Linked DNA regions of Homo sapiens: region 1 is linked to region 2. Evidence: fine-mapped expression QTL. A gene starts in region 2. The other region holds a variant in brackets. All regions are shown on one strand. Distances are between the middles of the regions.

What was found. PIP is the estimated chance that this variant, and not a neighbour inherited with it, causes the effect.
Region 1: its variant is the best candidate, but not a certain one, in a credible set for the expression of CLSTN2 in lung (TOPMed, PIP 0.75).

Annotation. Positions count from the first base shown.
Region 1 is chr3:139,822,210-139,838,605 of GRCh38, forward strand. No RefSeq gene overlaps it. Among named protein-coding and RNA genes, the nearest start is that of CLSTN2, 100 kb to the right of the region's middle. The variant A/G (reference allele first, on the strand shown) is at 8,888.
Region 2 is chr3:139,928,968-139,945,363 of GRCh38, forward strand. CLSTN2 (calsyntenin 2) reads left to right here and starts at 6,218. Exons shown (of 17, transcript NM_022131.3): 1 at 6,218-6,516. The coding sequence starts at 6,408. RefSeq lists silencers at 6,216-6,265, 6,306-6,365.

The sequences.
Region 1 (16,396 bases), 110 kb before region 2:
ACACCATGGAATACTATGCAGCCATAAAAAATGATGAGTTCATGTCCTTTTTAGGGACATGGATGAAGCTGGAAACCATCATTCTCAGCAAACTATCACAAGGACAGGAAACCAAACACTGCATGTTCTCACTCATAGGTGGGAATTGAACAGTGAGAACACCTGGACAAAGGGTGGGGGACATCACACACTGGGGCCTGTCGTGGGGTGTAGGGAGTCGGGAGGGATAGCATTAGGAAATATACCTAATGTAAATGACGAGTTAATTGGTGCAGCACACCATCATGGCACATGTATGCATATGTAACAAACCTGCACGTTGTGCACATGTACCCTAGAACTTAAAGTATAATAATAATAAAAAAAACCATACAAGTACCAAAAACAAAATAAACCACCCCCACGCCCCCGCCAAAATAAAAGACAATCACCCATTTCTGATGCATCTGTTAAGGGCAAAGATTGGCTAAGTCAATGGCGACTCTTCCTCTGTACCTGCTCAACACTGCCATGGCTTGGCAAAGGTCCTGGTACATGAAATATGTTCAGTAGATATCTGGAGGTTGCTGCTCCAATAATGCAGATGGAGAGATTGCTTAAATCATTAGGACTAGAGGAAGTCCCTTACCCTCCTCCTTTCCTAACTAGCCAGCTGCCCCAGCACTCCCACCTAGTAGATACCTGCCAGGGATAAGGCTATTAACTCTGCTACAAAGGCCTTCCTGGGGAGACTGCTGCAGTGATGGTTCCAGAAACTTAGTCTAGTTAGCTCTTTCCCCATGGAGGAATTAACCACAGGGAACTGGACCTGGGTTTCCAGGCAACGGAAGTGCTTCAAATCTGGGTTTTGATGGCCCTGTGAACACCCTTCGGGTGCAGTGCCACACTGGGATTTAAAAACGGGAAAAATTAGCACAATGTAGTGTGGAGAAGTGAATCGGGCATCATTAGGGTGTTTCAAGCTGACCCACCACCCTGAGTATTGTAACTTTAGAAAATCAAAGAATGTCTAAACCGGACGGGCTCCAGGGATGCTAAATCCAACTTTATTTTAGTAGTGCTGGGTCCCCAAGAGGGGCAGAGGGAGACCTGTGGTCTCACTGCCAGTCAGTATCACCTACAGATGGCACCCCCAGGCTCTAAAGTCTTTCCCACCCCTCTGACCACAAAGCAGCTTTAATCGCCTGTCTTTTCACCCGAGCCAGTGCAGCCTTGTGTTTATACCTGCATCACTGCCTTCAGAGGGAGTGCTCATGGAAGTAGAGATGTCTTCCTCACTTTCTTGGAACACCCATCATGCGGGCTGGTGAACAGCAATCAGCCCACAAACATTTGTTGAGTGAATATAGGAACTTCACCCACTCACTGTTGAGTCAAATCAGGAGGCTAGAAGATGAAATGGAGCCGTTCTTCCACCTCCTCACCCCTGCCCTGACAGCTGTGTGCTCTGGAGTAAGCCAGGTAGCCTCATCTGAAAAATGGGAGGAGTCATGGATGCAGCTAGAGCCCAGGAGGATCATGCAGTAAAAGTGCCCCGACAGCTGTAAAGTCTTCCACAATGTCAATGTGCTTTTCTTTTTGCAAATGTGCTTGGCTCTCTCTAATCTTATATTAGTTTCTTAGGACTGCTGTAGCAAATACCACAAACTGGGTGGCTTAAAACAACAGAAATATATTTCCCCAAAGTTTGGGAGGACAAAAGTCTGAAATCAAAGTGTCAGCAGGGTTGGTTCCTTCTGGAGGCTCTGAGGGAGAATTCTTCCTCGCCTCTTGTAGCTTTTGGTGGTTGTCAGTGACATTCAGTGTTCCTTGGCTTATAGGTGCAGTATTCTAGTCTCTGCCTCCATGATCACATCAGCTTTTCCTCCTTGTCTCTGCATGTACTTTTCTGTCTCTTTTAAAAATACTCTCACTGGGTTTAGTACACACCCTAATCCTGTACGATCCTATCTCGACCCTTATCTAAATTATACCTATTTTTTCTTGTTATTTGTCATTTATTTATTTTATTTTTTGTAGATCTGGGATCTCACTGCATTGCCCAGGCTGGTCTGGAACTACTGGTCTCAAGTGATTCTCCTACCTTGGCCTCCCAAAGCACTGGAATTATAGATGTCAGCCACTATGCTTGGGACAAAGACTATTTCTAAGTTAGGTCACATTCTGAGGTTCCAGGTAGACATTAATTTTGGGGTGACACTATCCAACCCACTATAGATCTCTAATTCCATTAACCAGGTGTGGTTCTCTGCTCCCACTTACTTAGGTACACACCTTTTAGTGATAACCAGGTATGCAAGCAACAGCCCCCAAAACCTGCAAAGGAGCAGGAAAGGGAAGAGAGGTGACTACTTGTTGAGGGTCTTCATGTACTTAGGGCCTCAATAGGCCCTATACAGCTCTCAATTTCTTTAATCAATCTTCCTAGCAGCCCGTGAGAAATATTACTGTCTTCAGCTTCCTAAAGGAGAAAACAGAGGCCTGGAGGGATTAAAAGACTTTTCTAAGATTTTAGAGGGCATGTTAGGGTTCAGGCCCAGGGCTGTCTAACCCAAGGCCTAATTCCTTCTATTACATCCATCATACATGAGTGAGCACTGGGCATGAGGATACGTCAGTGAAAGGGGCCCTGTAACATGGACCTTACATTTTGGCTGGGGGAGACAGGCAATGAATACATAGGACCATGTTGGGAAGTGCTAAGTACTCTGATGATAACACAGCAGGGTGAGGTGACAGAGGTCTAGGGAGAGTGGTGTTCAGCAAAAACTTCTCTGGGGAGAGACATCTACACTGAGGCTCAGCTTCAAGAAGGAGACAACTGTGAGTGGAGACCAGGCAGGAAAAACAGGAAGTGCAAAGGCCCTGAGCTGAAAATGAATTTTACCAAGTTAAAAGAAAAGAAAAAAATCCAGCGGAACTGTGTGAAGTGGGGGTGAAGGATGGTCCGAGATCAGAGGTGGGTGGGCAGTGGCCAGATCAAGCATGGCCTTGTGAGTGAGGAATCGGTATTAGTGGGAAGCCTTGGGAAGAATTGGATTGGGAGTATATTGTGCTCTAAAGTGGACCATCTGTGCTCCTTTGTGGTGCACTGATTGTACTAGGTCAAGGGGAAAGCGGGAGACTGGTTAGGAGACTATCATGAGTTATCCAGTGAGAGAGGAGAGGTGCTGGAGGCCTGGCCTTGGATGGAGGCCATGGAGATAGATAGAGGGCAGGTGAGGGAATTTGGGGGATAGAGCTCGATCGGGTGATCAGTTAGATAGAGGCTGTGATTTGGAGGAGTAAGCAGGAGTGGTTCCTCTGTTTTGACTTGAGCCATTGGGTGGAATGAGGTTCCCCTTACCAAGAAGGGGTGTCTGGTAAAGGTGAGAGTTCACCATGTGTGGGAAGACATCCTGCCACCCCACTTCCTTCTTCATCCTACCCGAGATAACATGGTAAGATGTTAGCTGCCATCCAATTCCCTGTGCACATTAGACAAACACATTACTTTCCTTTTGTCAGTTGCCTGGAAGTAGAGCACTGAGGGAAACGAAAGCTGTGTTCTATGGAGGGTGAAGAGAGAGGGGGTGGATTCTGGGGCCTGGGACACCCCTGAAAGGCAGGTTGAGGAGACGGGGACACTGCTGGGGCAGCTTGAGGACAGGAGGGCTGCAGGCATAGAAGAGCAGGGCCCAGCATGTGGAAACTGAGATGGGGAGGGCAAATGTCACTGCGATGGCCTGAATGTTTGTCTCCTCCAAAACTCATCTTGAAATTTAATCCCCAAAGTAGCAGTATTGAGAGGTGCGGCCTTTAAGAAGTGATTAAGTCATGAGGGCTCTGCCTCATGGATGTATTATTTCATTTGTGGATAATGAATTAATGGGTTATCACAGGAGTGGGGCCGGTGGCTTTATAAGAAAAGAAATAGCAATCTGAGCTAACACACTCAGCCCCCTCATCATGGGATGCCCTGCACTGCTTTGGGACTCTGCAGAAAGTCTCCCCACTCCCACCCAGCAAGAAGGCTCTTATCAGATGTGGCCCCTTGACCTTGGACTTCTCAGCCTCTAGAACTATAAGAATAAATTTTATTTCTTATAAATTACCAGTTTCAGGCACTCTGTTATAAACAACAGAAAATGAACTAAAACAATCACCAATTTGATAGTGTGAGGAATAGCAGCCTGAGGAATGGGGTCAGAAACTGGCAGGGGCAAGAGCAGACTGCAGGTTGTGGATGGAGCAATTGGGAGGAAGAGTCGGGATGCATCAGTTAACACCCTTTGGTATGGTGCTGGCAGATGGCACAGTGCAGGCATGGGGCCTCAATGAACCCCTTAGGGTGGCCCTGTTCTTGTAGACCATGACCCTAAGAAAAGCAGCTAAGAGGTCCACCAAGTTGGCCATGTCTGAAATCATCTTGCATGGGACACTTCCTCCTTTTCACCTCCCACATTTCCTGAGGGATTTCAAGTTTAACAGGTAAGGAAAATCTTTAGCTAAAGGATGAAACTCTGAAGGTGGCATATCAGATGTCAGCCAGAAGTAGGGAGAACATCTCACAGACATCAGGCTCCTACACACCCCTTAGATCACACCATGCAAGCTGCCACCCTCCCTCTCCACTTGCAAATACAGCCTGTTTATATCTCTATCCATCAGAATATTCTTTTTTTTTATACTTTAAGTTTTAGGGTACATATGCACAACGTGCAGGTTAGTTACATATGTATACATGTGTCATGTTGGTGTACTGCACCCATTAGCTCATCATTTAACATTAGGTATATCTCCTAATGCTATCCCTCCTCCCTCCCCCCACCCCACAACAGGCCCCAGTGTGTGATATTCCCCTTACTGTGTCCATGTGTTCTCATTGTTCAATTCCCACCTATGAGCAAGAACATGTGGTGTTTGGTTTTTTGTCCTTGCGATAGTTTGCTGAGAATGATGGTTTCCAGCTTCATCCATGTCCCTACAAAGGACATGAACTCATCATTTTTTATGGCTGCATAGTATTCCATGGTGTATATGTGCCACATTTTCTTAATCCAGTCTATCGTTGTTGGACATTTGGGTTGGTTGCAAGTCTTTGCTATTGTGAATAGTGCTGCAATAAACATATGTGTGCATGTGTCTTTATAGCAGCACAGAATATTCTATTAATCAGATCATCTCTCTCCCCAAACACACATTGTCTGTATCAGGGGCCCTTGTAGACACTAAGTTTAGATGTAAATACTTAAAAATGGTTATTCATGCTACATATATTCCATAAAGAATCTAAGGAAACTTATGAATGAGGAGAGTTAAGGCAAAGATTTTCTAAATGGCTTTCTGAAAGTACATAAAAGAAGGAAGGAGGAACTTATACCAGGAAATCAGTAGGAGAGATAGTGACTCTAAATTTAGCTCAAAGCTCATGGCATCCCAAGAAAAAAGGAAAGTACACTTGTTTGTTTTGTCCTCCGTGCCTGAAAATGGCAAGCCTTGCATAAGTAAACATCTGGGGAAGCACTGTGCCATCCTGGAGGGAAAAAGTGCCTTGGACATAGACAAAGATCTGAGATTCAGATGTGACATTGGGAAAGACGAATTTCTTTGAGTACAGGGTGTATCTTCTGTAAAATGAAAGCAATTATTGTAAGCAGGGTGCCTAGTATGCACTGCCCCCATTCTTGGCTCATAATTCTAGAAGGGGATGTGTCATGAGGACCTTATATAAGAACCTATTGGTAACAAGACACAATGCCATCTGGTCAAATCCGCCTCCTCTCTGGCCTCATGACAAAACTGGCTCCTGGAAGTATAGTCTTCCCAAAGGAAAGAAAAACACCCTTAGAGACCTGGAAGTGGGAGCAGAGAAGCTCCCCTCTGCCTTGGACTGATGTTTCAGGCACCCAGCTGCTGCTGAAGTGAAGGTAATTCTGTCTGGGTCTGCAGTGTGTCTTGGAACAAAAGGCTGGCAGCATTGGAAGCTGCTGAAGCCTCCTACATTCCTTAGAAAGCCCAAACACAACCACACACTTCTGAAGCTGGCCAAGCTTCTGTCTGGATCATCCCACCATGTTCTGTAAAATCCTACTTCTTCTGGCACCTCTTTTATAGGATCAGTGTCCTCATGGAAACCCTCTTCCGTCCCCTGTCCTATGTCAGGCCTCCTGGGGGCAGAAAATTAGATTGCAAAATCATTTCTTGCTGCTCGCTTCTTATAAAAACTGCACCTCTCCTGCCCCCAGGAAGGCATTGCTCTCTGCTAGGGACACTGAGAAAAGGAAGAGAAACAAACTCTTAACAAGATAACACCAATAATATTAATAATGACAGCAGTCAGCATTTATTGAATGTCATGTTATACCAAGCATATTAAAAGGACTGTCTCATTTAATCCTCAGGATGACTCATTTCTATCTCTCTTTTACACAGCGGCTCAGAGAAATTCAGCAACTTGTTCAGAGTCACACTGCTGTTACATAATGGGGAAGGGAGTAAATTCATAAGTCTGGAGTATCAGCCACTTCTCTTATCCATGTAATGGTTACCCTAGGTTTTTCCTAATAGGAACATTTTATCATAAAAGAGCTCTTTTATCCTATAAATGTATGCACTAATTATAAAATTAGCTATTAGTGAAAGAGGTATTTTGAGTTAAGGAGGACTGTCGTAGGGCCCCTTAGATGACACCTTGGATATTTTGTCTCTTTGTGCCTCAGTTTCCTCATCTATAAAATAGAGATAGTAATACATACACACTTCAGGGGTCATTGTGAGGTGTAAATGAGTTACTGTATGTAAAGTGCTTAGAACAGTGCCTGGCACAGGGTAGGTGCTATATGAATGTGATTATTATCACAGTTGTTATTGTCAGGGTGGTGACTTCCATCTTCAGTCATATCTCAAAATTGTCCTCCTATGAGCAAACAGGTGGGTTCTCAGGAGAAGGAGAGCAGCAGGTACCACCTGTACTCCCCTGTTCTGGCTCTTCTGCCAAAGAGAAGAACAAAAAAGTCCTGGCCAAGCATAGATGAGCTGGATCTTTCTAGCTAGGGGAAAGAAGAGGAATCCCAGGCAACCTGCAGTGTTTCCCGACATCCCAGGATACAGCCCTCCTGTGGTGCTGATGCTGGGCCAGGTTGAATGCCATTATTTTCTATAGGAAAGGGAACAGTAGGTTCTCCAGCAATCCATGTGTCTGAGGGGAAGGACTGGATCACCCACAGAATTGGACTCAGTAGACTATCAGGTGTATCACTTGTTATGTGTCAAGCTTAAAATGTTACCTGAATTCTGTCTTCTCTCATTCTTCTATTCTTAGTTGGATTATCTGATGCCTTGTGGACAGGGTGTGTGACAAGGACACATGGGGAAAGAAAAATTTGCCCTTGGTGTAGTAGCATGCATGCACTCCTGCCTCCTAACTGCTTGGGTCCACAAGCTTTTCTGGTTATAGCTTTCTATTGCCTTGGGCTGGGCTCCCACACAGATCTAGCCCTTTGGGGACATTCTCTCATTGACCCCTGAGTTCATATACATTTATAACCAGATCATCAGCTTCTGCAGGGCAGTGGTTGTATGTTTGATTCCCACTCTGTGCATGGCCCTGTGTCAAACACTCAGTATCACAGGACCACAGAGGACCTCTAGGAGGTTCAGGTGACAGGGACTGTCAGTGTCTTGCCTCCTTGGGAGGCTTGATCCTTCTCAAAGAATCATAACATCACAGGAAACTAAGAAAATGTGAGCCCATTTGGTGAGTGCAGATTCAAACACATCATAATTTTTCAGATACTGCTAATTAGCCTAATTAGCAAGGTCAATTTGGGCCAGCTAACCACTGTGCCATCTCTTCACCTGTATTGTTCAATTCATGAAATGCTTACTTGGCACCCACTCCAGGCCAAGCACTGTAGCTAGGGCCCAAGACATGTAGAATTAAAGAGGCACAAACCTGACCCCAGAAGCTGACCTAAAGGAGGGACGTCTAACAGGGAAATGGCTGTGTTGCCAAATGAAGGTGGAGCAGTAAAGTGCAAGGTGGTGGTGTCATGTGCAAGGCACAGTGTAGTGCTTCATACATGAGCTTGGGGCTCATGCAGAAAGCATGGGGCATTGCATAAAGCTTGGGGCATTACCGAGATAGTAATACTTCTTCTGTAGCACTTTCATGAGGATTACATGCCAACAGATGTATATATATTAGCTGACTTAAACATGGAAACACACCTATGGCCAGGGTACTATTACACATTTTATTATACATTGTAAGTGCCTGGCAAATTTTAATTGCTGCTATTATTATATTGAAGTAGCTCAGTTTAAGCAAATTCTGTTGGCAGATGGGCAGGAAGTTCACACAGAAGAGGTGAGGTCTTTGCAGGGTTTTGAAGGGTAAAAAGATGTTCATCAGGCTATCAACAGGGAGAAGGACATTGCAGGTATTGAGATAAACATGTGTCAAAAGCATAGCGGTGAGACTAGCACAGTGTGTTTGAGGAGCTGGGCAGCACCATTTTAGCCTGGCATAGAAAATAGAACACCTAACGGCCTGCTCCCTCGAGCATTTCCCACTTTCCCCTCAGGCTTGTAGAATGGGACTACGGAAACAGCTTCCTTTCCCCTTCATGTAGGAGATGCCAACACCCACTCAATCCCATGGCAGCTCCAGCACAGGCAGGCTGTTGGGTCACTATGCTGGTGACCTTTCTATTCAATCCGCAGCTCCAGCTGTACAAGCCTGGAGGCCCCACTCAGCCAGTGAGGGGAGAGCTAATTGGAAGATGAGGCATCGCAGGAGGCCTGACATCCTTGCCCCAGGCCGTCTCTGGTGCTGCAGCAGATGGCTTGCCTTCTCCGGCCCTTCAGAGACGCCCCCTCACAATCACGGCTCCACAGCTGCCAT[A/G]CGCGAAGGTTAGCTTGGTGCTTCAAATGTGTGCCTGAAAGATTATGTAACTTGCTGGCAGGAGAAAGCCGCTACACTTGGCGAGTTTAGCAAAATTAAATGTGTCAACATTCGGTTTTGAATTTGAAATAGTGCAAATGTCTCCTTAGTCCCATTTGAATAAAAAAAAAGTCAAGATTGGTCATATTCTTTCTAAAATGCTATAGATTGAAAGTGTATTTAACTCATTCATTTATTTAACAAATGTACACGGAAGGCTTATTGTGTGCCAGACAAATGTGATACATTAGGAATCAAACACCGCTGAAGAATCTTTCCCTCAAGGAGTTTACATTCTAGTAGGGCAGGACAGACAATAAATAACTGACACAATACTGACATATGTTCCATGCTATGACAGAAATTGAGAAACGTCATGGAGTAAATTTGAAAAACAAAGCAGGAAAAGGAGATTGGTGTTCTGGGGGTGATGCTGCACGTTAAATAAGGCAGTCAGCCAGGCTTTCACAGAGAAAGTGGAGTTGACATTGATTGTATTTAGGCACCTTTTCACTCTCCTTGTTGGCAAGTGCTTGGTAGGCAGGTCAGGGGGGAGCAGCTGGAACTGCTCTGGGGAGTCTGGAGAGAAGCCTCATTCTTGCCACCTAGGGTGCCCAGTTGTCCCAGTTTGTCTGGACCAAAGGGCTTCCTAGGACATGGGAGATTCAGAGCCAAAACCTAGTAAGTCAAGGAAAATGGAGACAAATGGTCACCCTTATCCCCACACCAGTGGTTTAGTGGACTCTTACTTTTAATTCAGCCCCAGTGAGCCATCAACCTTGCCACATAGAGTGGACTCTGGCTGACCAAAACTTGAGCCGGGTCTTACCTGTTTTTAAAATTCCTCAATGCCTAGTTGATTATTTGTTTTCTTTAACCATTAGGGATTTCATCAAGATCAAGCAGGGAATAACTTTCTCCTCTCCTCCTGGATTTGTAGCAAAACTTTGGGGCTCAGAAGGAAAGCAAAATGAATACCCATTTCTAATGAGCTTTTGAAAGTCTCCAGAGAATTTTTGCTTAGAGACACTGTAGAAGTGTAGAACTGAAAATATTCATCTTAAATGAGGTTTGAACATTCCCCCAATGGTTTCCGTTGCCGACGCTCCTCTGGCACCACAGACATTCAGGGGCTGATTGGATTCAGAGCTCCTCCAAGGCAGGGCTTGCCTTATGCAGCTTACTGCTCCTGGCATTGAGCAGAGGACCTTATCTCTGGTAAGATGTCACTTCACACTTTGTTGGTGTTAATCACATTTTTCATCTCCCAGGCATGTCAAACTCAACTTGTGCAGAATCAAGCTCAGCAATCTCCATTTCCCTTACCCCCAAAACCTGTTCCTTCTCCCAAGTTCCAACTTCAGTGAATGGCTCCATCATCCTCTAATTACCCAAGCCAGAAGCCTACTGACTCCTCTCTCACTCCCACAACTCACGAATCACTCAGCCTTACCTGTGTCCTGTCTCCCAAACTTGCTCTCTTGTCCTCATTACCATGGCCACTGCTCAAGTCCAAGTTCCAATCACCTGGCACCTAAGATGATGGGAAAATCATCTCATTGGTCTTCCTATTGCCTCCCCAAATGGTTTTCAACACCTACAGAGAGAGGGATCTTTATAAACATATGCAACAGATTCCATTACTTTCTATTTTAAAAGGCCTTCAATAGTTTTGTATTATTTATTGGATAATGTCCAAACTCATTAGCATGGCCTATTGGGTCCTCTGCAATCTTGTCCCTGCTAACCTACCTCACTTGAAAACAGCCCAATTCCCTACCACTTCATGTTCTGATTGAACTCAGTAAATTCACTTTCCTTAGGAGCGTTTGTCACTGTTTTTACTCACACACTTCTCTGGAGGGTCCTTCTCCTTTCGAATTTTATTTCAAGCTCAGCTGATGTCACCCTTCAGAAGACTTTCCTGACTCTTCCAGTTAGAACTGGTGTTCTGTGTTAGCTGTTGTCTGTTGATACTCAATGGTCCTCCTGACGTTCTAAGCTTGTTCTTGTGTCACAGAGCCTGGAAGTCTGGAAAGCACATTGTCCAGATTCCTTTGCCGGCAGAACATGGAGTGATAGAAAACAGGGGCTGGGTTGAGGCAAGACAGGTAAAAGTTCCAGCTTAAATTCTTCAAATGACAGACTGGCGCATGAGATTTGCAAGGCAAAAGCAAATAACAAATCATTATTTCTTCCAGGAATGGCAGATAGATGCATGGAGAGATGGCAGTTTTTGATGTTTTTCTTTTTTTTCCCCACTTGCTGATTTCCTGAAAGCCAGCATCGGCTTTCCATTCCCATTGCTTCCCCAGCTCTCCCACCAGTTTTATGAGTTTTGAATTTCTTGAGATAAATTCCTCCCTCTTGAAATATGCAGAGTAGTTTGTATTTCCCTAACGGATATGTGTGCTTCCTACTTTCTCAGGCATAATTAGTGTTTGTGTATCCAGCATTTCATCCAGGAGCTGGCAGTTAATAAGTATTAAATACTGTTGTTACTAAGTTAAATTGAATTGAATTATACAAAGAAATAAAAATACCATGGGTCACTTACCCATCAAGGCTAGCCCCTGAGGCGAGGTGTTTCACTCATTTCATTGCACCCGTTTCTTCATCCTCCTTCTCTGTATGTGTAATGTCAGATCATGTATGGAATGAAATGCAACAAAAAGAAAAATCCTTTGAAGTATGACAGTCATGGGTTCAAATCCCACACCTGTTACTTATTATCTGTGTGATCTTGAGCAAGTTACTAATTTCTCTAAGCCTCTGTTTTCTAATCCATATAGTGAGAATCTTTATGCTTTACAGAGTACTTATGAGGATACTCAATAAACATTAGTTCCCTATCCTTTCCAGTGTAGAAGAAACATAGAATTTTTGAAATTTAAGTGGCCTTAGAGATTATTTGTGACCTTATCCCCTCATTTTACAAGGAAACAGAGGCCCAGGCAGGGAAAGTGATTGACACAAAATTACATAGTTATTGAGTGGTGAAGCCAGGACTAAGGTAAAGTCTTTTGACTGAAAGTGCAGTTCATTTTTATATTATAGATATAAATAATGATGCTGATGAAAATGAATATAATTTATAATTGCAGAAGGACAGAGACGTTTCCTCAGTCAAGGTCCCAAATGAAGAAAACATAGAGCAAAGGACCCTCTTTTCCCACAGATGTCCTGTGACTTAATATAGTGTGAGTGGGAAATAAGCACTTGCTTGGCTACTGGGATTTGAAGGCTTTTTGTTACTGCAACATAACGTAGCCTATCCTGATTGAAAGAGGATGTGAGCTGATTGGGAATCCATGGTGTTTGGCTGATGTGGGATATAGCAACTCACCCAAAGCCTGTATGAGATGCATGGTACTCAGAATTGCCAGAAATATCCATGTTCCACATGAGAATTGAGAACTAGAGTATGGGAAAGAGACACAGGCTCACTTGTCTCATATACATTTTTTTTTTTGGAGTCTGCATCTAGGACCTAGAAAGATTCTTATGGGTCAACCTGGGATCCTTGTGTCTGGTTCTTGGGCTCCTGAAACCACCTCCTTCCTTATTCTCTCAAACCAGCTTTGGATTGTTCCTTACATATGGTCTGAGCATCCCGGTATATTCAGGGTCCTAAATGTGGGGTTGTTCCTCAGAGAAGTGGCAGATTTTAATCCATGAGTGGACAAACAGGTATGAGAATTCTGGCTATATAATGTAAATATCATTTTCCCGGATTGATGTGTCAAAAGTAAGATGGAATTATTATGAATCCTATGGCTAAGAAGAGAATTAAAAGCTTTAGCTAGAAAGAGTCCATGATAAAAGCAATTAGGGAACCCCTCTTTGAAGATGAGATGGCTATACAAGGAGGTTAAAGACAGTCTGCATAGAGTTGAGAAGGGAAGATGAGAATAGCCCAAGAGAATGACTCAAGCATATGAAGGCAAATTCAAGGTGCAGCACTTATCTGAGTGGGAAGGCAGTCCCGGCACAGGTTTTGAAGAAATGTGTTAGAAAAACATGTGAAGCTTGGACTGGAAAAGAAGTAGCAGAGCCAGGTAGGAAAACCATCATAGCTGAATGAAGTCCAGGTTAGATGTTGGACTGGTTTGCTGAGTGTAAGCTCCAGGAAGGCAGGGACTTCTTTTTGATCACTGCTGTATCCCACTATCCAGGGCAGTTCCTAGCCCGTAGCAAGGCCTTTATAGATTGTTGGATGAACGGCTGTAGAGAAGATACCCCCTGGTGTTTTTCCTTTCTTCAGAGTGACAAAGGTAGGCAGGACATATTTGGAAAATGGAAACTTTTGCCTCTGACTCTGGCTTTCTCTCTTGCTATGGGAGACCATACCTGACAAATACAGTCGAAGGCTAGAAACACAAACATCTGGGTCTGAAACAAACAAATAAACAAACAAAAAATAAAAAAATAAAGCACCAGGATCTGGCAGAAAAAAAAAAAAGAGAATACTAGCCCTGCCCATGGTAGAGAAGGGAAGAGGCTGACTGAAGAGGCAGGTTATTCATTTTAAAACTGAGCCTGAAAGGAGCCAGAGAATGACAGACAGAGGGAAATGGAATGCGAGAGGCCTGTCCCACTGCCCCAGGAAAGGAGGTGGCAGGAAGAACAATTCAGAAGATGAGGAGAAGTGAGGTTTCAGAAGGGAGCCCAGGGCAGAAGAGATGGTCTTCTCTGGAAATGTGAACAGCAGCTTCAGTTCCCAGTGTTCATATAGCTGAGTCAAGAAAACTAAGAAGAAAAATGCCCTAATTGACAGGATTCATAGGGCCTGGACTGGAGGCAGAACAGCAGCCAACATGGCCAGGCCAGGAAACATTCAAGGCTGCAGGTAACAACTCCAGAAAAGAGAGTGTGAGAAGAGCCACATGTGTTTGGCTTGGGCAAACCCTGCTTGCAGGAGCAAAGGGCATGGGAGACCAAACACATGAAACAGCCCCAGGGGTGCCGGGAACATAGGCTCAGACGTGAAATGGGAATTAGGAGTTTTTATAAATTTGAAGGAGATGGAACCCCAAGTAAAATCTGGAGGCTCGGCTGCACCTGGGCAAATGCCAGTCTTATTGGCAACTGTAGTGAGTTTGAAATTCAGAATCTTTTCTATGTCTCACATTTGTTTTCTCCAACTCTTCTTTCCCAGATGTCACCAAGCATCTGCTACATCCCATGGCTGGCAACAGAAACATGGCTTCTGAGAACATAATGTTGCTCAGCTAAATTTGGTAGGTTTGGGGCTGGGGCTGCGATATTCTTGTGTACCCTATTGACTTTCATATCCCTTGCAAACCAGGACACATGAGGGCCTTGGGATTGGATAAGTCCGACCTCCTTGTTGCTTCAGGAGTCACACCCATTCTGGGTAGACACGCAGTGAGCAGCTGCTCCCAAAGGAGACACTCAGACTCCAGCAGGGAAGCTACCCTGGTTGAGACGAGGGAGACTCCAAGTCTCAGGGAGGAAAGGCCTTTCATTTCTTTGGATTTTGATTTGCAAAGGGAAGGGAGCTCTGGTTTTGAACTTTGATTTTCCTCCTAGAATTTAATAAAGGAGAGGGCTCCAGAAGGCTGAAGTTCAGGGTATTTTTAAGTTGCTGGTATTGTGCTCATTGGGGTATTTTTATGCTGTCATGTGATGTTTGTGGCACAGCTTCCTCTACTGAGCTATATTGGACAGTGTGGCTTGAAATTTGAGATGGAAAATACAATCAGGATAAATTTTTGGCCCAGGGTACAGTGAGGACTTGGAGTGATTTTACTGAATGCCTTGTTCTGATTATTTCAGAGGCTTCTGAAGGTAACAGCTGAACTGCCCCTCCCTCTAGCCCCTGGGTAGTGATGAGAGGCATGAGCGTATGTTGTGAGAGTAGAGTGCCTCTGCTGGCCTCCATCCTTGGAAGGACAGAGGTACCCTGGCTGGTCAGGCTTGGCAAGTTGACCCAATGAGATAAGTAGACAAAACCTGGGTGGAATCAGGGAAGAACCCTAATCCCACCTGATTTCTGTTTTCGCAGAGAAGAGCCTTCTCTTTCTCTGCTATCTGCTAACTTAATCCTTCTAAGGGCGGTGGAGTTGCTAACATTCAGGCCAGGTGTTGACCAGGAAGTGAAGCGAGATTATTAAGAGTACACTTACACACAGCAAGCTGCATCACAAGTGCCTCAGAATGCTTGAAAATGAGGTCCTATCTGGCACAGCTGCCCAGGGTTTGGTGAGTAGATGTATTTGTGCAGGGACAATTGTGCCCCTTTTGCCTTTATAGGATGCTTGGTGAGTGAAGCTGGGGCTAGCTTCTAGTTCCTGCTTGTCTCCTCAGGGGATGTTTTCAGCCCTGAATACTCTTTCTTGCTCTCCACTCAGCACTAGGTGAGGCCAAACTGCAAGGCCAAGCTCTGGACCTTTACTCTCTGTTCAGCTTCTTGGGGCCTATGGTCTTCAAGTTGGGAGAGGCAAATGAAGGAAAATCTCCTCCTTAGCCCAGCTTGTTCAGTGGTTCATGTGCATTAGGAGTTACTGTGTACCCATCTGGCCCGTGAGTAAAACATCATCAGGTCCCTTCTACTTAGCATCCCTTGTGATATCCTCTGTCTGCCAGAGTCTTAAAAGGCAGGAGGGGTAAGAGAAATAATAAATCAAACTTCGCCCCGATTTCTAATAACAATGGTAATTAATAATATTTATTTTTTATATAATAACAACATGAGGTCTTGTGGTATTTAAAAACTGTTTTTTTAAGGTGATTTTATGTCATGGCTGAAGATTTTACACTGTGGCTTCTGACAGAAATGAATGATGTGTAAACCCACATTTTGATCCATCAGAGGCTTCACTTTTGCCCTCCTAGAACACTATTGCCCTACCTAGGGCTTATGAAATCCTGTTTGTAAGAATTTAAGCCAGAATATTACTCTAATAATCAGGCCAAGCCTGCTTCATCCAGGTATTCACCTATGACATGATCAAAAAGTGTTCTTTAATTAAGTACTTTGTAAGGTGGACCAAAGAATACATTGAACATGACTGAGCCTCATCCACACACAAAGAGGAGAAAGAAATACTCGTTATAGTTCTATGCATAGACTGTAAGAGATACATAGTGGGTTCTGATCACCATTTCCAAGTCTTGCACAGAACTTTGCAGAACCAGTGTGTTAACCTGGGCTTGTCTTCCTGCAGCCTTACCTGTTCACATCTGTGGGTTCTCTGTGATCAAGAACTGCCTGCCCTGGGAAATCCATTTGTTTTCCTCCACTCAGTGCCAAATGCCTTCGTCTTTGTTTCTGCAAGCTCTCAACATTCACTGTAAGTGTTGCTTGTGAGGGGGCTTTCCAGTCTTTTCTTGAGCTTTGCATAATTCTACCTGCCTGCCTTTGGTTTAATTCAGGAATGGCTGCGGAGGCTGCAGCTTCTGCTTTTTTCTAAACTGAGTGCCCTTATGCTAGGGGTTTGCCTGAGT
Region 2 (16,396 bases):
GAAAAACATGGCTTCAGAGTCAGACAGGACCCAGACAATTCAAATTCCAGCTTCTTCATTTTTAGCAGTGCACCTTAATTTCTTTGAGCAAGTTGCTGAATCTCTTTGAAACTTAATCTCCCTAGATGTCCAATGGAAATGATAAATCACCTTTCTAGACTTTTGGAGGGTTGAAGTAATATGTGCAGTGTCTGGCTCATCGTAGGTGCTCAATAAGTGGTAGGTTCCTTCTCATCTCCCTTAGTGGAACAAAGCCCTGGAATGACACAGAGCAGATAGATTTAGGTACTTGAGACACATCTGAATTGCTCTGGCAGGGCACGTGGGCTGGTGCTTCCTGTGGCAGGATTGGCAAAGGTGCTGGTGGGGCTGGAGCTTCTGTGGTGTCATGTGTGTCCATATCTGTCCACGTTTTACCTGCATAGAAAACACCAAATACTGGATCAAGTCAGGCAAAAGGCTATCCACAACCTGTGTGGCCCTGGGTGAGTGTCCATTGTAACTATCAATGGCCCTATTTACTGTATCCCTACCATCTGGCATGGAAAGAATTCAGCAGTTTACAGTTCATTTTACTCTGAAAACAACCTGCTTCATTAGTCTAAGTTTATAGATGAGGAAACTGAGGTTCAGAGTAAGTAGCTTTCTCGAGTCAGACATCATTAGAAAACAGGAAAGCTAGGTTTGCAACTTAGGTCTGTCTGATTCTAGAAATCATTTTCTTTCCACTAAGCTCTACTTATTCCTTGCCTTGGCTTCTACAAGTCTCAACATCTGAGCTACAAAATAGGACTAATTACACATGACTTGCCTCGAAATATAATATTTATCTTTTCCCAGCCTTTGTTGTAGGGAACAAATGAAAATAAATATGTTCTATTTCCTCTAGATGTATTATAAATGACACCAAAACTTAGTGGTATAAACAACCATTTGATTACATTCATGGATTCTATGGGTCAGGAATTTGGGCAGGGCATAGTGGGAAGAATTATTTGGAACTTTCAGGATAACTCAAATGTTGGACTCAGCTGGGGCTGTAAACTACTTATATACAGCCTTTCTGCATGGCCTGTGATCCTTAAAACATGGCGGCCTTAGCGTAGTTAGAATTCTTACATGGAGGCTCCAGCCTCCATATGTGAGCATCCTAGCAAGCAAGGCAAATGCTGCATCACCATTATTATCTAGTCTGGGAAGTCACACAGCATCACTGCTGGTGCAGTCTACTGATAGAAACAATGCTCAGATTCAAGGCTGTTTGGATTCAAGGAGAAGAGATATAGATTCCATCTCTCAATGGAGGAAGAGCCACAGAATTTTATGGCTGCTTAAAAAAACAAACAAGCAAAACACCACAGGGCATAAAATTCCAAGGAAAGTATACATAAGTGTACTGGAATAATGCCTTGCTATTATTAATGATATCTTTGTTTTCAGCCAGGGCACTCCACCTTGCCAAGCATAAAACACTCATGTCCAAACAATGCTGAACTGGATTTGGTTGTGAACAAGCTTTTTTTTTTTTTTTTAACTTTTTCCTGAAGAGAAATGCCTAAACTTTTTTTAAAAGAAGTTCCTTTGGCAGCAACAGCGTAAAAACTTCCAAGAACAATGTTAAAAAATCTGCAAACTGTCCAGTTGTTCAAGCGTCATGAAGCCCCAGTTTTACCTGTCAAGATGGGAAAAAAGAATGACAAATGACTCTAGTTCTGTAAAGATCAGCTTTTCAACCTTTCTTTTAAAGTTAAGTACTTTTAGTTGAATTAAATCTGGGTCATGGAGAAAGCCTCAGTTTAATTTTCTTTTTAAAAATAAGTTTCCATAAGTATATATAATTTATTTATTTTCTTTGATTACCCAGCTTAAATTATTTAGGGCCTGTGTTTTGGTGCTTAATTGGGCAACGCATTAATGATCCTGGTGAAATGAGAGGAAATGGCTATGTTTATATGGGGCCTATGCCAGTTAGATTCTATTTTCTGGAATAGGGGAGTTATTTATTTATTAAGAACTATTGACCCAGATAAATTACCTGAGATTCATTATTACACTGCCAGGTGGTGCCCCAGACTTGAGGCTTAGAGTGACCAAGCTTTACATCATCCTGTTCACCATTTTTTTTTTTTGAGATGGAGTCTTGCTCTGTCACCCAGGCTGCAGTGCAGTGGCATGATCTCGGCTCACAGCAATCTCTGCCTCCCAGGTTCAAGCGAGTCTCCTGCCTCAGCTTCCCGAGTAGCTGGGACTACAGGCACGCACCACCACACCTGACTAATTTTTGTATTTTTAGTAGAGATGGGGTTTCACCATGTTGGCCAGGCTGGTCTTGAACTCCTGACCTCGTGATCCGCCCGCCTCGGCCTCCCAAAGTGCTGGGATTACAGGCATGAGCCACCGCGCCCGGCCCTGTTCACCATTTTTTGAATAAAATCTTTAGAGGAATATGCCACAATACTAAGTCCAGAATAAGTAATGGATATTCAGAGATTTGTATCTCTACTTTGGTGACAGTTGGCTATTTAAATTGGTCCTTAATCAGAGGTAGTGATAGATAAAGGTTTTTTAAAAATCAAATCCCCAAAGCTATCTTTTCTGATTTGAAACTATTTTTTGTTGCTTACTTATCCCGCATGCCTCTCCCAAAGTCATGATGTGTGGGAGAAAGATGAAATTTGGAATTAAGCAGACATGAATTGATATTCTGCACAATTATGCAAATATGGATAAGTTGCTCAAACTTTCTGAGCCAGTAATCTGATTATGATTAAATAGGGAAAATAGCACAATTGTCTTAGTCAATTTTCTGTTGCTTATAACAGAATACCTGAAACTAGGTAATTTATAAAGAAAACAAATTTATTTCTTAAAATTATGGAGGCTGAGAGGCCTGAGGTTGAGAGTCCAAATCTGGTGAGGTCCTTCTTGTTCATGTGGATTCTGTAGAGGTGGCAAAGGGCATCACATCATGTAATAGCTCAGGTCTCTCTACTTCTTGTTATAAAACTACCAGTCCCATTCCCATGATAACCCATTGATCTATTGACACATTAATATATTAATCTATGCACAGATTAATCTATTCATGAGAGCAGAGCCATCATGAACCAGCCCCCTGCCAAATGTCTCACCTCTCAATACTGCCACATTGAGGATTAAGCTTCAACATGAGTTTTGGAGGGGACACATATTCAAACCACAGCACACTTGTTGCAAAGATTAAAGAAGGTGTAGGTGTGGAATGTATATCCTCCATTGTAAAGCCTGGCATGGAAAGAATGAGGACTCATTAACTGTTAGGTTGCTTTACCCCATCTTTTGCATCTGCAATGGCCCAGCAGAAGCAGACAGCACAGTAGTGCTCCATACAAATGATGTGGACTTAAAAGCTCTTATGTCTGAGTATTTCTAAGGCTGAACTTACTTACTTTTATCTCCTCTAAGGCAGGTCATTGTTGCCTGTTCCCCAAATGAATCAAATCAAATGTGTGACTGGCACACTTGTTTTCAGAGATATAGGAAGTAGGATAAGGGGAAGACATTTTTACATTTATTGAACATTGACTATGTGCAACATACTGTTTAACATATTTTTAAAATTTACTTCTTGTAATGATCTTATGAAGTAGGCATAATGCTGCTCAATCAATTGCTCCAGAACATAATGAATTAATGCAAAAACCACTTATTGTATCTCATAAGTCAGCTGGATAGTTCTGATGTGAGCCAGGCTTGGCTGATCTTGGTTGAGCTTACCTGGGCTTGCTCATGTGTCTGTGGTTAGCCAGCCTGTAGGCCAGTTGGTTCTGACCAGCCTAGTGTGACCTTGGCTGTCTGAAACAGCTCAGTTCTACTCCATGCAGTCTCCTACCCTTCTGCAGGTTAGCTTAGGCTTGTTCTCATGTCAGCAGCAGGGATTCAAGGCAGGAAGAAGCAACATGCATGCCACTGTCCCACTGACCAAAGCAAATCATATGGCCTAGCTCAGAGTTGGGGTGGGAGGGCACATCCAAAGGAAACAGATTCAGAGAAGCATGGACAAATGGCCATTAGTGCACTTGATCTACCACAATAGGCATTGTTATTACCCTCATTGGTAGAGGAGGAGATGGAGGCTAGCAATTTTGTGCCTGTTGGTAACTGGCCCACCCCCTAGTGTTTTTCTTTGCTGTGTTCTTTCCTGGCTATCTCTCCATGGAGATGCTTCCTAATAAGCTACATTTCCCCCTGTTTCTCATTATTTGGTCTGAATTTGAAACTTCACATAAAATTATTAGGACCAATCAGTGATCTTAACAAAGCCCAGTATAATGACATCAAAGAACAGTGCAGGTAAGTCAGTAAGATAGGTCTACTTATTAGAGAAAATGAAGGGAGGAGGGCAGATATGTAGTTGGGTGGAGCATAAATGGAAGAAAATGAGACAAATTTACATTTCTCTTCTATTTTCTGGCTTTTTTATTTTCCCTGGGTCAGCTACCACCTTTCCATGCCATCTTTTCTAGATTCTGAAACCAACATCTGACAAAGGCAAGGTCCTGGTGTCGGCCTGGGACATTTACTAGATTTTTGACCCTGAACAAGGAAGTTACCTAACTTCCCTGAGCCTCTATTTCATCATGTGTGAAATGAGAATAATAGCGCACATGTTGATTTGTGGGCTAAAGGAGACCTGAAGGTAAAGAGCCCCACATGGGTCTGAGCCCCATGCAGCCACCATGATTCACTGCTGTCCCCAAGCACATCCTGGTGCCTGAAATCCTGAAGAGTTGGCTTTCACCACTGCAGAGGCTCTGAGTGAGCTGCCAGGGCAGCAGAGGGAGGCTGAGCTGCAGGAGTGCTGTTAATGGATTTTATGGCTTTGTTGAGTACCTCAAACTACAGTTATTAATTAGAGGATGCTGTTTAGGCACTCTTGCAATATATACATTTTGTTAATTGATTTGTATAGGCTCATAGCTAGCAACATAAAGAATGTGCAGGACCATAACACTTACAAGGGATTGTAATTGCCTTTGCTGCCCTCTCTGGCTCCCCAAGCAGGGAACAAAAGCTTTGAGGATAGGACCCACTCTCTCCTCTGTCTTTGGATCTCCAACGACTAATCCAGTGCTCACTGTCAGGGTGATACAGCCTGTCTAGATGCTCAGCAAACGTCTTGAATCAATGACTAAATAAATAATATTGTTTGTTTCTGTATTTCCATATCTACTTTATTTCCAAACTATTCCTCATAAACCCTGCATTGTGTGTGATGTTGGCATTTCATTTAGGTAAATATGGTCAAGGATTTATTCTGAGTCCTTACTGTTTTTTTTTTTTTTTTTTTTGAGTACCTTTGTAATTTTTTCACGGCCTAGAGATGGTTGAGGATGCAAAGATATGCACTGGCTCCTGCACTCAGGGAACTGACAATACTCAACGGCACGAGATTTTACAATGCATGACGTCAAGTAGCCTGTTCTTAGAGATGCGGAGTGACAACATAAAGGTGGCAACTTCTTGCATGGCACCATACCGCAGGGAATTTTAAGTTTGACACCCCGCCCCCGCCACTGCAGCCTCAGCAGGCCCAGCACCCCAAGTTTTCTGATCTAGCTGTTCTATCAGCCTCTAAGAGCCGCGGCTGCCCCTGCTTCTCGGAGATGACGCGGAGCCCTGCCATTGCCATCCAGGTCCAAGGCTATCTACTCTGCCCGACAACCCCTAGCACCACTAGGCGCTGCTCTAGTGTGCGCCTGGCGCCCTCCCCAGACCAGTCGACGCAGAACGCCCAGAGACCCAGCCAAGGGCAAGACCCTTAGCGACGCCCGTCAGTCCTCTCCGCCCAGATATCAGTTCAAAGGGCATGGCAGGTCAGGGTCCCTCGCGCCACCCCAGATGACCCTCAGGCCTCGGGTGGCCACTTTCTGGGGGAGCCCTCCATCCCTTGCGGCAGCTTTTCCGAGAGTCGGAGTGGAGGCGCGGGGCTGGAGGGCTCTCCGGAGCCGCCCACCAGGGTCCTCTGGGGGCCCGGTCCCGACTGGGCAGGGGGACCTGGACAGGGCCCCGGAGCGTGGAGACGGCTGAGGAAAGTTGGGGGTCGGGGCCTTGGGGCGGGGAGCGCGGAACCCGGCGCCGATGCCCGCGTTCATGAATATGCACGAGCCACCTCCCTCCCTCCGTGACGTCACGGGCCGTCCCGGGGTGAGCGCCTGAGCCGCTCCGGGTCCGCGCCAGTGAGCGCGGCTGCTGCCGGCGAGCTAGCGGCGCAGCGGCGGGAACCCGAGGCCGAGCGCCGCGGCGGCAGCGCTAGAAGCGCACCCATCGGGCACGGCGAGGCGGCCCACGGTGCGGCAGGCACCGGGAGGCGAGAGCCGGCGCGGACAGTAGGCGGCGGCTGCAGCTCGTTGGCGGCTGCTGCGAGGATGCTGCCTGGGCGGCTGTGCTGGGTGCCGCTCCTGCTGGCGCTGGGCGTGGGGAGCGGCAGCGGCGGTGGCGGGGACAGCCGGCAGCGCCGCCTCCTCGCGGCTAAAGGTGGGTGCTGGGGAAGTTTGCTCTTCTCCCAGGAGGGAGGCAGGGCAGGCTTGAGGGTGAAAGCGGCAAGGACCTAGGCTCAAGCTGGATTTGCCCACCCTCCCTTGCCGCAGCTTCTTTGGCCTCTGTGCGCCCTGGATTCCCGAAGTCAGTTCCCTGCGCAGCGGACCAGAGAGGTCCACCCGCGGACGTCAACTCAACCCCTGGGCGGGGTCCGGGGGCTGAGCAGAAGGCGAGGTCTGGGGAGTACGGACAACTTTGAGGGCTGTCTGTGCCGGGGTGGGAGCGCAGTGGGTGAGTTTCGAGCTCTGGCCCAGGGACGGCTAGAGCAGGGCGCTGGCGCGCCGTGGGGACAAGCAGGTGTCTGCTCCTGCCTGGGGGAAGGATCAGCGGCGGTGCTTTCAAGGAGGGAGCCGAGCTGTGACTTGTCTCCCAGCTCGGGGATGGAGTGGAAACTTGTAGGCTCCAGGGAAGGCCCCGCTGACACTCCTCAAGCTCCCCCAGGGCGTCTCTGACTCCCCGGGGAACGTGTACCCTCCGGGTAGGCGGCGGGGTCCGGAAGAAGCGCGGGATGTGAGGCTCCCCGCTGCCTTTCCTACTCCGCTCTGACTACCGAGGACCGAGGAGCCTAACCTGGCACCACTCCCCTGCCCACCCTGTTCCTTTGAAGAGCTTGACCTCCCCGCGCCTCCCGCCCGGAAGGAAGCTAGATCCAAGCGAACGCCTGGCTCTGTCAGGCGAGCCTGGAAGCCGGCGAACCCCGGACTTTGACAGCTGCCTGGGAGCGTCGGGAGCTCTGGGGTGGGGGGCCGGGTCTGAAACAGGAGGTCACGTGCTTGCAGGGGGTGGGGAGGCGAGGGAAGAGCAGAGCTGGTGGGGAACAGTGGTGGGCTCAGGGGAGGCTGTGGCAGATCCTAGCTGGGGCGCACAGCTTAGTGATAACTTGTTGATTCTCTGCGCTGTTCATAAGTAGGGCTTGCGTTTGGTTTGTGGACTGTGGCCAAATCCGCCAGGTGACAATGAGGGGTACTTGGTCCCCAAATCCTGCCTGGCAATCATCAGAGGGCGGAGGGGTTTGCGCCTGTCAGAAAATAGATTCCCTGTTAGAGACAGCCTGATTCGGACGCTTGCTTTGAGCTACACTTGACCACTAGCTTAGGGGAGGAAATGCCTATCAGGCTGCATTACTCTTGGAGGTTGGGGAGAGCTGGAGGCAGGCAGTTCGCCTTGTCTGGGCTTTAGAAACTGGCCCTCCAATAACTTAGGAGTGATATATTTGAGAAGAACATGGGAGATTATGTTTATCTGTAATTTTTAAATTTTTTGGTGTCATCGTTTTGAAAATATTTTATAAGCAGGCATTCTGTTTCTTTTCAGCATTTTTTTTCTTGGTGTATCTTTGACAGGCAGTTTCTATTTTTAGAAATGAGAAATTTCATGAGAGAAAAACTCGTTATGAAAATATCTCAGAGTGCGGTAAAGAAGTGGCTGATATGAAGGGATCAAGCTGAGAGACTGTTGTTTTGGTGAAGACAAGAATAAAAAACAATGAACTTCCAAACATCTCCCCCCTGCTTTCCCAATATAGACACTTTGTTAAACAGGCAAATTACTTTTTTGGGGGGTGGGGGGGAGGAGATTTCCCATCACTTTGTAGCACAGTAATTGATATAAGCAGATGTCTGCAAACGGGAGTTTGAAGGAGGGTGAGAAGCACACAGCAAGTGCAGAACAGGGAAGAAATCATTTGGGAAGAGGATCTGGTGTGAGTAGTAATAATGCACGGCTGAGTTCTCAGGTCAGAATGGGAAGCTTCATAGAGGTAAGCGAGAAAGAGAAGGAGAGAGATAAAAAAGGAAAATAAAAACCCCAGGCTTTCAATGATTCACTTTATGTGGATAATTATGTGCATTTTAACCAACATCCGACTTAGAACATATTCATTTTTTGGTTAAAACTAGGCATTTGTCAGGTCGGGCATGGTGGCTCATGCCTGTAATCCCAGCACTTTGGGAGGCCGAGGCGGGCGGATCACCTGAGGTTAGGGGTTCGAGACCAGCCTGACCAACATGGAGAAACCCCGTCTCTACTAAAAAAAAAAAAAAAAAAAATTAGATGGGTGTGGTGACACGCACCTGTAATCCCAGCTACTCGGGAGGCTGAGGCAGGAGAATCACTTGAACCCGGGAGGCAGAGGTTTCAATGAGCCGAGATCGCGCTATTACACTCCAGCCTGGGCAACAAGAATGAAACTCCGTCTCAAAAACAAACAAACAAACAAACAAACTAGACATTTGTTTTTCCAGGGTAAAAAGTTTATTGGCCCTGCAGATTGAGAGTTAACTGTCCGAATTCCCCTTGTTCTCGCTTCTTTCCCCTTCCAACCACTGGGGGGCTGCAAAGAGCTCTGTTTGCTGCTGATTTTTTTTTCAAGATAAATGTGTAATATTTGATTACAACAGAGACATTTATTATGACACTTTAGTTAGTATTTACAGGACTGACTTTCCTTATAACAATGCACTTGCATTTTATGTTTCCAAATCATATGATCTCTGAAGAATGTTTGAAATGATAAAGCTGTATGTTTTGTGTATAATGCACCCTGCCTCTGACTTTGCCATTTTTAAGGTTCATACCATTGTTATTCCCATCACAAAAAAAAAAAAAAAAAAATCAGGAAGGCGTGTGAAGATTGAACAAAAAACCAGATACTTCTTTCGTACAATTCTGTATTCATGTGTAGAAAAACACTGGGAGTCTGGAGTCAAGCTTTCTGACAGAGTTGAATGCACCCTCCAAACAACTGTCTGGAAGCATGTGCTCCCAGCTTCAGTCTTGTGTAAGATGTTGTGTCTGTGGTGCACAGCTTGTTCTGCCTTTGTGCTTCTTGCTTCTTGCTTCTTGCTTTAGGGACTCGAGCAGTTAATCCCGGACAACTACCTGGGGTTTTCACAGAATCACTGTACTTTCAGTGTAGACATATTTCCAATTTCAGAAATCACACAGTGGCCAGGCAATTATAACTCCTTCCCTTCACCCTTACATATTTTGGCTATTCAAAAAAGATAAATACTTCTTGGATTCCATGAAGAGACCAGATCACATGCTCATGTTCTATGAGTAAAGCTGGTAAGGTGTTGTGGACCCAAAGAGTTTCTGGAGGCAGAGAAAGACATGTCTTATCCAAGGGAAGGAAGACAATGCAATCTAGACAACACCTCAAAGTTTGTGCTAAATTTGGCAAAATGTCAGTGGTCCCAAGACCTCAAGGACTTGGTACACAGTCCTTCTTAAGTTCCCAACATCTAGGCATAGAGGTCATTTGGAACAATACTCAAGTATAGACCATCAATTGTTGTAGTGCCCGCCTTGTGTGCTAAGAGCCTTGCTCAGTGCTCTGGTTCTGAGCCAGTAGCAGAGGACCACCCTCCACCCCTCCCACCCCTACCTTTCTTTTTTTTTTAATTTTTATTATTATTATACTTTAAGTTTTAGGGTTGAGGAGCTTCTGTTTTAGTTGGAGAGACAAGATTTTTATGTGAAAATTTTAAGAGAGTGGCAGCGGAGAGAATTTGTCCAAAGTATAGTATTGACTGTGATAGAGACACAGGCAAAGGAGATGGGAGTGCAGAGACAAAGTTTACAAAAGCAGCATGTGGTAATAGGTAAGGAGGAGGATGGAGCAGAATTATAACAACAGTATGGTGTAATTGTAGTAATTTCAGTGTATGGAGTCCCTCTTTAGTATGTCACAGGCACTGTTGCTAATCCCATTACATGGGCAATCTCTAACTCTTACAACACATGCAGAGCCAGTGTTAGCCCATTTCACAGATGAAGAAACAAATTCTATGAGAGGGTAAATGAACTTGCCAAGACCTCCAGCTAGAGGGTGTGGCACTGGGATGAGAATATAAAGGTCACTATACCCAGTGCCCCCTATTTGTCAGATAGTCTTCCCAGTGGTTTTGAAAGCAGGTCTAGGGACCACAAGGAAGCTGAGCTGTTTGCATCTTTGAGTTACCCAGGAGCCCTTGTGGTCCTGCCCACAGAAGAGCACAGTATGAGTGTCTAAGGCTGTTTAAAAGGGCATGCAGGTGAGGTGAGGGAAACGGACCTTGCTCTCACCATGGAAACCAATGTTCTCGCTTAGAGCAGTCACCTCATTCTCTCTCCCACAGATTCAAAAACCATCCTTGAATATTCCAGATTGCACACTGCAGAACTTCCTGCAGGGGCAAAGGTAGTGTGGAATTTTTATGGTGGATTGTTCTAAGTCATCTTTGGGTAAGTAGCAGGTGTCTTCTAGTGGTATAACAGAGTCATTTTTCCAACTGAAGCACAAATGCCAAAAAGCCCTCAGCAATGCATCAGAAAGTGTACTCTGACCTGCTGCCATCCTGAAACGCCTGTGGTTCTTGGACCGGAATGTGCCCTTTACCTCTCTTGGATTCTCTGGGCATCAAGCTAGTAGGTCACCTTCCTCAGCCCAATTTTCACTGTTACTCAAGATTTGGCCTTCCATAAGGAACCTTCCCAGGCTGGTTACTTCTGAGTGACTTGCCTCTCTTTCCTGCATGCCTGTGTTTCCTTGTCTGACTCTAGTCCTCAGGGCTCAAAGACCAGTGCTAGAGGCTCATTCTGACTCTCCTGGTATCTCCAGAGCCTTGCCTCAAGATATGAGATGAGCAGTATGCAGTGATTTGCTTGGTGAACACACCTGTTTGTAATCCCTAGTGCTGTCATTTCTTGACATAGACAATTTATGTGTTTTTCCTTCTCCTCTATAAAGTAAAATTTGGGCATATGGCCAGAAAAACTTGAGTTCCAAACCTGGCCCTACTGCTTCCTAGTTAGATGATCTTGGACAAGTTAGTTAACCCATCTGAGACTCAGTTTCCTCATCTCTAAAATGGGGATACAGAGATCTACCTTGTAAAATAGTTGTCAGGGCACTTAGCCCAGTTTGGGGCATGTAAAATGCACTAAATATACAATGACTAATTATTGATCACTTGAACAGTTAGTTTAGTGTCTGAGATTTGGTGAATTTTTTTTTTTCTGATCTCTTAGAAATCCAATAGCTTTGTTCATATCTTTTCTCAGCTCAAACTGTTATCCGTTCCTCTGTTTCTCAGTCTCTCTCTGCCTCTCTCTCCTTGTGTGGATATGCACCTGTGTGTAAATATCATATATAAATGTAAATGCACATGCATACACACGCATTTGGCTTGACTTGTTTGTAAAAAGACATGCTTTTTTTCACTAGTCTATGGATGTCTTTGAAGCCAGAGCTCCATCTCATTCATCTCAAAGGCCCTGGCACTTAGTGCAGGGCCAGCTCAGAGTAAAGGTCAGCAATATTTGCTATCTAAGTAAATAAACAAGCCTGTCTCCATGTGCTAGTGCCAGAGGTGTGGGAGGTTCTGGTCTCTGGAGGGAGAGCTTATGTGGTGTGATCTGGGTTGTAAGGAAAGATCTCCTGCCCAGTTCATACTTTCCTCCAAGCCCTGCTACCTGAGAAAACAGAAAGGCATACTTTTTTGTTTAAGGTATTGACAAGTTTTGTGATAATACATGTTTATATGGAATGGGGTAACTGAAGCTATGATATTCAAATAACAGCTTGAAATCGATGATTGTTTTATTAGCTGTTATCTAACCCATGACTAATTGGACCCTGTGGAAATGGTTCCCTGGGAAAGACAGGTTTTGAGGGTAGACCATGGGGAGGCCTGAGCTGGGGAAGAGCACTGAGCTGAAGATCCTGGCACTGTGTAGGACAGAGGATCATGCTCTGAGATTTGGGAAAGAAACAAGCAGTAGGCCAGAGGGAGTATTGGTCAGAGGAGAATGGTTAGAATGAGAGTTAGCCCTTCCAGACATGCACTAGGTCCTGTTCTCTAGCCTTTTCAGCCAATTACTATTTCTCAGCCTCCTGTTATTCTCTGTGAGGGGAACAAAAAGATAAAAGCAAGTTCCAATTATCAAAGAGTTCACACTCTGTCTAGGGCAAACACTGCACATCACACATCACACAAACTATTGCAGAACTTGGTGACTTATGGGAAAATCATAGATTGTGCATCACAGACCCCCCGAAGCCTTGCAGGAAAGGAAGAAGTTGGCAACAATAGAGGTCAGGAAAGACTTATGGAGAAAGTAAAAGGGATGTTGATGGGTGGGTAGGCATTGGGTAAGCATATGTCAGGGGCAGGGGTTTGCACTGGACAGGTAAATACAAGGTGGTAAGAGTGATTGGCACACAGGCACGAGTGAAGAGGGAGCTCAGCCAGGTCAAATATTATTTCTGCATCAGATTCCAGAGCTAATAAAACAGTGAATGTTTATTGAGTTCATACTATGTGCCAAGCACTATCTTGAAGCACTTCACATATGTCGGTTGGTTTGATCCTCGTACCAACCCTATGAAGGAGGTAAATCTACAATCTTATTTTTACAGAGGAGTAAACTGAGTCACTGAGAAGTGAGGTAACTTGCCCAAAGTCTCAGAGCTCAGAGGTGGTAAAACTGGGGTTACAAACTCAGAATACACTGGTAGGCATGGGTTCCCCTCTTCACACAGGCTTACCTATTCAGAATGATGTGATGTCTGCTTGAGGAAGGCTCTGAGTGAGGTCAGAGAGGCTCTGCTGCCCTGGAAGGCATTGCCTTGCTGTCCAAGAATATTTGCTTGGATTTTACTTCAAAATTGCTGAAAGAATCGGTTTCCCTGAAAGCCTCACTCTCTGACTCACTTCTCCAAGTGAGCAATACCTGTTTCTTCTCATCCAGACAGCTTGAAGCCCTCCTCACCTCCTGTCATGCTTGGCCTCAAGCAGAGGAGGCAGCCTTCTGCACTGTATAGTCCCAGATGTGTTTGGAGGGGTCTCCTGCACCAGAAAGACTATCCCAGCTGGCTGGCCTTTGTACCGACAGTTCTCCTGATTCGGTTATTCATTTGGGTTAAATATTGCCCTCTTCTGACTCCGTTTTAGGCCAGGATACATACTTTTAAACATATTAGGTGGCTAGATAACAAAGTGGATAAGAAGGGGATGTTGAGAGGTGTGCATGGCAAGGGCGGGAGGAGATCATATAGGAATAGCAGATAACCAGACTGTTGATCGGGCTGCCTTTTCTTCCACTCTCACGGCAGGATTTTATATATGCCCATTGTATTGTTCTCAGATACCCCTCTTACACATTGGTAAATGCACATTACAGGGCATATAGCAGCAGATCAAAAATCAGGACAAGGGGTCAGACTGTGTGCAGTTGATTGCAATCCAGCACCAGCGAGCCAGTGTGGTGAGCTAGGTGACATCTTGGACCATGGCCACTTGAAGCCCATTTCTTTCACTACTGAGCAGTTTTCTAACTCTAAGGACAGGCAACTTATTTCCAATACTTTCTCAGGATCTTGCTTGTCTCCAGCTCAAGACCCTCTACTCATATCAGTCCTCCCCAGAGATTGGCCAGAGATGCCCCTGATCAATACTTTTTTTCCCTAGCTCACTTTGAGCCTCCTACCCCACCCAAGGCTCACTCAGTATCTGTTTCCTTTAGGATGCCGCAGCCCCATATGTCCCAAACTAAGCTCTCATTTTTCCTCCAAGAATCTACTGCTTCTGCTGTGGCCTCTGGGTGAAAGGTACATCATCCATACATTCACCCAAGCCAGAGCCCCCAAGAGTCCTCCAGCATGCTTGTCTCTCCACAAATATCACAACCCATCCTTCCTCATGTCTGGTTGATCCTATCATCACCATCTAGAACCTCTCCTCAATTCCCATTGCTTCTGCCTTGTTTAGCATCTTGTGCAAATGAAAGCACTAAATTCTAATTTTGACCCCCTCTCCAACCCTCCCATTATGCTGCTGTCAAGGTGGCAGCATGTATGCCAGTCCCACCAGGCCTGCAAGAAACTCCATCTCAGTCATGAATTCTATCTTTCACCCTCCACGCTAAGGTCTGTAAGGTTTTTAAGAATAGCTTAACACTCTGGAATTGCCTCAGATTTCCCTCCCTCACAGGTTATTACTGCTTGTGATGCCCATTGTCCAAACAGCATGGTGCCTTGAGATCCTGGGGTGTCTACTTCCACAGGCAACAGACGATACCACCAGCACCTAGAATCTAATATTCATGCCACATTCTGTAGTCACTTCCCCAGGGGTGCTATCACCATCTGGGGATGGGAGCTGGAACAGGCTACCGGTTCCCATCCCAAAGGAAATCAGCTCGTCTCAGTTTTAGGGTGGGTACACAAAAGCCACCCACCTCCAACCTCTCCCATCCCAACCATAACCTCAGTTAGGGGCTCAGGCATTCACAGAGCAAAGGCCAGGACTGGAGGTATCTTCAGAGAACTTCTGCCTTCATCCTTACAACCCAAACCTCCTTCTTAGAACAGGCAGCCATACCCCTTCTGATAAACCTGTCCAGGGAAGCCCCAGACCTCCCAAAATAGATCCCAAACTCTCCAGCCTGGCGTAAAAGTCTACGATTTTGCCCATCTGGCCTTCTCTCCTGTCAGTGAACTTTCTAGAAATTTCCAAATAGTTAATGCTTTCATCTTTCAAGAACTTACTATGCACCAAGCACTATTCTGACTGCTTTATAGATATTAACTCATTCAGCCTTCCTGACCACCAAGTGAGATGTGCACTCTTATTATCCCCTTTACAGATGAGGAAACTGAGGCAAGGAAGGTTAAGCTACTTATCCAGTTTACCCAAGTAGTAAAACAGCAGAACTGGGATTTAAATCTAGAAAGTCTAGTTTCAGAGTCCCCCCTTTTATCCAGCCCTGGATGCAAAGTGGAGCCACTTGAGAGAGATTTAAAATAACACCAATGCCCAGAACCCATCCCAGAGATTTTGTTGTAATTGCTCAGGGACAGCACCTGGGAATCTATGTGAAGCTCTCCAGTATTTCTGGTGCCCAGCCAAGACTGAGAACCACTCCAGCAAACTCTACTGCTTCTGCCAACTAAGTGGTACTTCCAGGTGGGGGCTGTGCTCCTCTGTCTTTCACCCACCAGTCCTTTATTTTCTCTGTCAAAGCTCCCATTGCCACCTGTCTCCCAGGGTGGCTGTGAGCCCTTGGAGGGGGAAGTGCCCTGCTCACCTCTGTATGACTGTTGCCCAGCACTGTCCAAGGCCCAGAGCAAATGCTGAGTGTTGAGGGGGTGACTGGTGCTAGGGCGCTGCTGCCCACGCTGGCTGCAAATCCTGCAGGGCTCTGTGCCCATGTACCTTCTCCCGTCAGCACTGCTTCCTTCCTTTGGTCATGGGGAGGAGCTGCCCATCAGGCCTTTCCCTTTTAGTTATTTGACTATCTGCCCAAACCAACTTGCAGCATTTGCTCCGTAGTGGTTTAAAATACTCGCTTCCGCACATGCGTCAAGAGAACATTAACCACCTTGAAATGTATTAAACAGTCAGGCCGGCAGATACCAGTGGAATTCTCATTCAGAAAGGCTGTCGGTGTTTTTCTCATTGCTTCTGAGAATGCTTAATTGGCTAACATTTGACTTATTTCTATGGAATCACTGCATCAAATTGTCATGTGAAAATTGCCAGTTAAAAAAAAAGACATCATTTTTGTGACTTCAGCCACTTTGCATCTCTATGATGTCTGCTGTATTATATAGTTAGGTAAAACTTTGGAGTCTTAATCAAGTCTGACTAGAAAACCACTGTGGAGTATCAAAGAAAGGTCATGGTCTCGGACTCATGTGACCTAGATCCACTGATGAGTTGTGAGGTTCAGGGCAAATCACTCAGCCCCTCTGGGTGTGAGTCTCTATCACATGCAGAAAGGACACAATGGCACCTCCTCTACCCAAGAAAGTTCTAAGTATTCAAATGGA